Homo sapiens: one gene and its partner. The protein of the gene in region 1 interacts with the protein of each later gene in a biochemical or structural test. Each region holds a gene or a part of one and is shown on either strand. Other genes may lie near its edges.

The links. Proteins that work in one complex are often made in the same cells at the same time.
Region 2: the proteins of PDZRN3 (region 1) and FRMPD4 interact in a test that uses a peptide from one of them, tested with the Homo sapiens proteins (one large-scale study listed by IntAct).

The regions. Positions count from the first base shown.
Region 1 is NC_000003.12:73,387,294-73,391,147, forward strand, and holds part of PDZRN3 (E3 ubiquitin-protein ligase PDZRN3), read right to left. Parts: intron 3,824-3,854; coding exon 3,725-3,823; intron 2,586-3,724; coding exon 2,523-2,585; intron 777-2,522; coding exon 675-776; intron 1-674. UniProt on the Homo sapiens protein: E3 ubiquitin-protein ligase. Plays an important role in regulating the surface level of MUSK on myotubes. Mediates the ubiquitination of MUSK, promoting its endocytosis and lysosomal degradation. Might contribute to terminal myogenic differentiation.
Region 2 is NC_000023.11:12,722,473-12,725,023, forward strand, and holds the end of FRMPD4 (FERM and PDZ domain-containing protein 4), read left to right. Parts: 3' UTR 1-2,051; downstream 2,052-2,551. UniProt on the Homo sapiens protein: Positive regulator of dendritic spine morphogenesis and density. Required for the maintenance of excitatory synaptic transmission. Binds phosphatidylinositol 4,5-bisphosphate.

The sequences.
Region 1 (3,854 bases):
CCATTCTAAGTGGATCAAGAGTGCCACCTGGGTGAGTTCATGATTCCTCCTGTGGAAGGAGTTATTACAACACAGAGGTTTCTGAATCAGATTACTTGGGCCTGAACCCCTCCCTGCTTTATCACCCTCCTTCTGGGCCTTTCCTGGGTAACTTTTGAATCTCTGGGAACTTCCATCTCCTGGGAAGGCTCTCCTGTGTGTAAAGTGCTCCACGGAGGGCCTAGCACTTATTCGGTGGTCATATCAGTTTTAATTATTTATCATTCAATGTTTCTTTTAATTTGAAAGAGCAAGTTTTAATTCCCCATACTCTGCTATTGTAAATGAAACCTGCACAGATCAAGGCTGGAACATATGTCAGGCCTTGGGAAGTCAAATGTCTTGACGTGACCCCGGTTGTGTTTTCCATTCAATTCTGTTTCCTTTTCCTTCCCTATGATCCCTGCATTAATGAACGTCGTGGGCCTGCAGTATAGATGCCAGGGTGGGCATCTAACCAACCTTAAATGGCTAACTCATAAAGTGAATTCTGAATCACAGCAAGTTTGATTACATTTCCAGGGAACAAAGCACCTTCAAGTTCGCAGCCAATACTCAGGTGCTCTTTTGCAGGCCTGGGGATCTTTTGATTTTAGAAATATAGACCCAGTTTCATCTGTAGGAAGCCAATTTACCTGGAGTTCAGGCCTTGCAATCAGCAATGAAAAGTTTTTATTTTCTTCACTGGTTAGAAGAGCCACAGCCTCTTCACGGTTCTGCACCTCTATCCCATTAATCTTTTAAAAAAAAAGGGGGGGTGGGGAGAGTGGGGAGACAAATAGCATGATTAGATGGTGCAAAATCATTCTATTTTATTTCAGACCTGCATTTGTCACCCACTCACAGTTAGAACATACAACTTCCGTGTAGCTGGAAAAGAATACTGATGTTAGGAAGGAAAGGTCTTGCTCAGACCAATGCAGTTTCTCTGGTCTATAAGGGAGCCTCCATGAGTATAGTTCATGAGGTGACTGTGATGTGTGGGGTGTGAACAGAAGGGGCTGGACCTCCAGAAGACGGCACTGAGAAAAATCATAATGCTCTGCAGAGGGAACATGGAAGCAATTAGACATAATATTCAGGCAGGAGTATATGTAGACATTATTGGATAATATAGAAGAAAAAGCAGCAAACTGAGGTTAAGAAAATGGAATAGAATTATACATGGTGTTTTGTGTCCCCAGTTTGACACTTAAACTTCTTTGGGCCAGGCGGAGGGTCAAGTGGGCGTGACACTCTCACTATCACACTTGATTAACCCTCTTGCAGGATTTTTGCTTGCATGTCCTGGTGACTTTGAGCCCTGCTGGTCTGGAGGTCTTAGTCCTGGTGGAACGCCGCCTCCAGGGGACACAGCAATGGTTCCACTGAATTGGAAGTGGAGGCTTCCATATGCCTCCTTACACTAGTGAGCCAACAGGCAGCAAAAGGGGTGACTCTATTGGTTGGAGTGATTGCCCTCAATTACCAAGGAAGATGGGCTTGCTGTGACACAGTGGAGGCAGGGAGGATTGTGTCTGGAACCTAGGGGATTCCTTGGAGTACCTCTGAGTGCTTCCATTCTCAGTAGTAAAGGTTAATGGAAAACTCCAGCAATCAAAAAAAAAAAAAAAAAAAAAAAAAAGAGGCAGTATGCTGAGGACCCTGACCCTTCAGGTGTGAAGGTTTGGGTCACTTCCCTAGGGCAAGCGATCCTGAGCAGCACAGGTTCTGGCTGAAGGCTAGAGAAACCCAGAGTAGGCAGTGGAAGAAGAAAATCAAAATGACCTGTGGTGAGGTATGCAATGAGAAAAACACAGTGGATTAAGAATGAGAGGATACGGATGAGAAGAGGTAGAAAGCTAAGCCTTGTGGACACAATGAAGCCAAGAATTTCAATTCTGTGAGATTAAAGAAGGTTGTAGCCAAAAGAGACATGAATGGTCTCATTTGGACTAGACGGAGCAACAGGGCTCGAGGTCAAGTAATGACCCTTAGAAGCGATTCCAGGATGGTTAGATGTTGAGTCAGAAAATTTCTAAGACTTTTCAATCGATGCTGCTAAATTTGCCAAAAATGTTCCCCTTTTATGGACGAGCCTCTGAAATGCTTGGTCCAAAGTTAATCTTTCAGAGAAATCTAAAACGAGAATTATTTTAGTTCACAAGTTGTAAACTGTTGGCCTGACTTTGGCTCACTGATGTTTGTTTTGATCCAAACAGAATGAAACAAAATAAGGAGAACTGGCTCAAATTTTGCAAGGCCCTCTTTGGAGAGAACATGCCCCATCTAGTTTGTCCCAGTCCTCACCACTCCCTCTTGCGTCTTATGACTCAGAGATAGCCTCACAATTAGTTTAACTTGTCTGGCCTCACTACACATCTGCGTTTGTGATCCCTGTTCTTTAACCGCTTCTGCATTTTCAACCCTAGACCTATCATTAGAACCAGTTTGTTCTTTAGTGATAGGCCCATCATGAGGCCATTGTTTGGAAGTGGACTTACCTGGATAATGCGGTCTCCTTCTCGGATGCGCCCATCCTTGGCTGCAATGCTGTTAGGGTCAATCTGAAACACACATGGACCATCTCAGCGCAAACGCAGACATGCATGAAAATAAGCAACAGCACTTTCAAAACCATTTCTAAAACACAGTCATGCTCACCCCTGTGTTTCTGTTTTGCACAGAAATAAACAAGACTTAGTGTCGTGCAAGGAGAGGCAAACATGAGCTGATCTGCTTCTAAGCCCTTTCTAGGGCTGGTTCTTGGATCCCTGTGTAGCAACCCTGTTACACAGCAGTGTGTGCAGGCTCTGCTGATCTGAGGAGGCACAGCTGACTTTTGTTGCATGCATGGTAATTAAAATCAAATCAATGATGTAGAACAGGTTAAAGGATACCCTTCATTATGTGGACTAGCAACTATACCTTATTTTATACCAAATACTTGTATTAAAATTTGGAAAATAACTTTAAAATTGAAATATAATTGGGACAAGGGGGACTGGTAAGGGGAGGGATGTCCCCAAATGCAGAAAGGATGGGTTAACTTAAGCTTGGTGAATGACATACAACCAAAGAGATAATTATTAAGTCTAGTAGATCATTCTGTAGCGACAAATTTTATTTCCTGACAAAATTGGGTTTCTGTGTTTGCAAGGATGGGTGTGCACTGTAAAGTTTCCATACTGAAATCAGTTGATTTGTATTATCTTCTCAAGGAAGATCAAAACAGCGTGCATCTATGTAGTTTGATAAGTACATACAAGTCACATTTAACTTATATGAAGTCAACTATATATACTCCACCAAGAGAAAAAAAAATGTGTGTGTGTGTGTGTGTGAGAGAGAGAGAGAGAGAGGCTTTAAAAAGTGTAAGTGATTCCATCCACCATTCCACTCAATGAACACGAGTTGGGAAATGTGAATCTGCTCTTCCCTTGGGGCTAAACACACAAAACCATGTAAACGGCTCCATTTTATGGCTGATTTGCAGGCTTCTCAAGGGTAATTTTGCCATAAGTACTGGCATTAGAACTTAACCTCCGTGGAAAGATGCAGCGCCATGGAGTGTGATGAGGGGGACAGAATAATTTGTGTCTTTCCAAAGAGATCTTGATGAGGTGGGTTAGGGTTGGTGAACATGAAAAAAAAAACCCTTTTGGTCTTGATACGATAGTTAGAAAAACAAAATCAGCCTTTGTACCTCACTGATATAAATCCCAATGTCGTCTTCATCGTCCGTCCGGTAGCACACAGTGAGGCCCAGCTTGTCCTGGCTGTTCATTCTGTAGAGGTCCACTTCCTAGACAAAGAAAGGCATTCCCAGTGAGACT
Region 2 (2,551 bases), on another chromosome or scaffold:
CTGGGGCTACAAATTGGTGGGGATGGATTCTACTGTGTCAGCACAAATGCTCTTCACAGTGGTTCTAGCATTTAAAAAACTTCCCGGGGAGAAGAACAGAGGGGATGATGGGCAGTTTCCTAGGTAACACCTAGAGTTATAGAATATCTCATTACATAAAATGTATGGAATTAATAATACCAAAATTAATTATTTGATGGAAAGATCTGCTTTGACTAAATGTCAAAAATCTGCAAACCAAAGACATTATCTTCCCCTCATCCCAACTCAACTACGAAACTTAAAATTCCCTTTAGAGTGATAGGACATTTAGTAAAGTATTTGCAAACTTAAAAAAAGGAACATTTAATGATCATCAAAATTAAGTACAGATTCAGTAATGTAGACCAGACCACACACCAGCACCTGTGAGTCTCATCTCAGATCACAGCTCTCAGCATAGGGCTTCATGCATCACCGCCTCTACAGAGGCTAAGGCTGCCAGTCAAATTTGGAATTATAGCGTAGTACTGGGACAAAATCTCAAATCTTGGATGTTCCAGAAAATCAGGGAGAGATGGCTACTGTAATCATGGGAGCCATGAGTAAATAGTTAAGTATTTATTAAATAAATACTTAATCTGGATTGGCTGATAAAAATATGAAATCTGAAAAAAAAAAGAAAGAAATGGAAGTGGTATATTTGACCAGTTCAAGTGAAACCAATGGAATGCAAAGAACTTTCCAGGACTGTCACATCTCTAAAAGTACCCTGCAGTCATAAAATAAAATCGATATGTATATATGTATTTCCTGGGTCATTCAGTGCTCAAGTTACATGCACTCCTACTTAGACAGGTGGCTCCTTAAGAACATGATGGGAGTACACCAGGTGCAAATATTTCTACTTTTGTAGCCTGCTGAGAAGGAGTCATAACACAGTCCACAATTGCAATCTCTCTCTAGTCAGCCATTCCACAGGGACTCAACAACAAAAGCCGCACGTGGTTATGGATGGCAGCAAAGGAAAGGAGTTTAGGTGTGTGTTATTATAAATAATGTTTAACTAAATAATAAAACATTATTTCATTACAATTATAATTATAAATATTGGTGTTTTGATATTGAGAGATATTAGTGGTGTTTACTGTGGAAAATCTTAGTAAATATCATTCTGTGTACTAAAATCCTAACCTATTAATAGGATGTGTGCCCTATGTCAGACAGTGTGCTAAGCATATTAACTATATTATCTCATTTAATCATCACAACAATCTGCTGGTTTGGACACTATTCTCTCTGGAGGCAATATGGATGAGTTCTTACGGATATGGGGTTTGGGGTCAGAAACATCTTGATTAAAATTTTGACTCTGCCATTTTCTAGCCCTTTTATGTTGGGAAAGCTACTTTTTCTAGTCTCAATTTCCTCATAATAAAATGAAAATCAATTATAAGATCGATTTCCATAGGGTTGTCATGAGTTTTGAGTAAAAATGTGTATGTAAAGTTCTTACCACAATACCTGGCAGAGAGTAAGTATTCAATTAATGTTAGCTATTATTATCATCATAATCGTTGTGTTAAATATATTGCCCAAGATAATATGTGGGGGAATGTTTGTTTTATATGCATATTGTATCCTGACTGTGTGCAGAACACATTATGTGTATTGCATATATGTAAAAGAAGTGTACAAGGAAGTGGCCATCCTTGTTCAAGTTACGTATCTAGTTAGAACAACTTCCCAGTCCATTGGAGTTCTTTGAGAAGCCTCAGGGAAGTAGCTCTGGGTCCTTCTAATCAACCTCCCATTACTGCGCCAGTAAGTTTCTGTTTCTTATAAATAAACTCTTTGCTATTCAGAAAACCTCAAGGGGCCCCCACATTCACTAAGCATGGGGCTCCTAACTGGGGTCCAGGTCCATAGAGTGTAGGAAGAACATATTAGAACAATACTTGTGCTTATTTTTATCTAGCTTTTTTATGTTTGTGTATGTTTTATAATGGCATAATAGTACAATGGTACATGTACATAATTTTAAATAAATAAATGAATGAATGAATAAATAAGCATATGCCTGGTGCATGCATGTGACAATATTGTCGCAGGTAGGGTTGCATTCACTGAAATCTGGAGAGCACTGAACTGGAGAATAAACCTTCCTTATACTCACGGTTCTTTATGTTTAGTCCCCAGTCTACTTTGCCAAGTTTATCTCCTACCATTTTTATTAATCTTTTATCACAAATCTTTCAAACAAAAGTAGACACAATCGTATGAATTCATGTGGACTCATTACCTACCGATTCATGTCTAATCTTATTTTCTGTATTTCTACCCACCTCCTCTCCCACTGTATGATTTACAAGCAAGTCCCAGACATCATAGTGCTTAGCCCATGAATATTTCAGTAAGAATATCCTGTGAGAACTTTTAAACATAACCACAATGACGTTTTTGCATTTTAAAAATTGGGAATTCCTTAATATTATCAAATAAACATTACAGAAATAAATGATGGAGAAAGTAATAATCCCCTTAAACCCAACTTCCAAAGATAACCATTGTC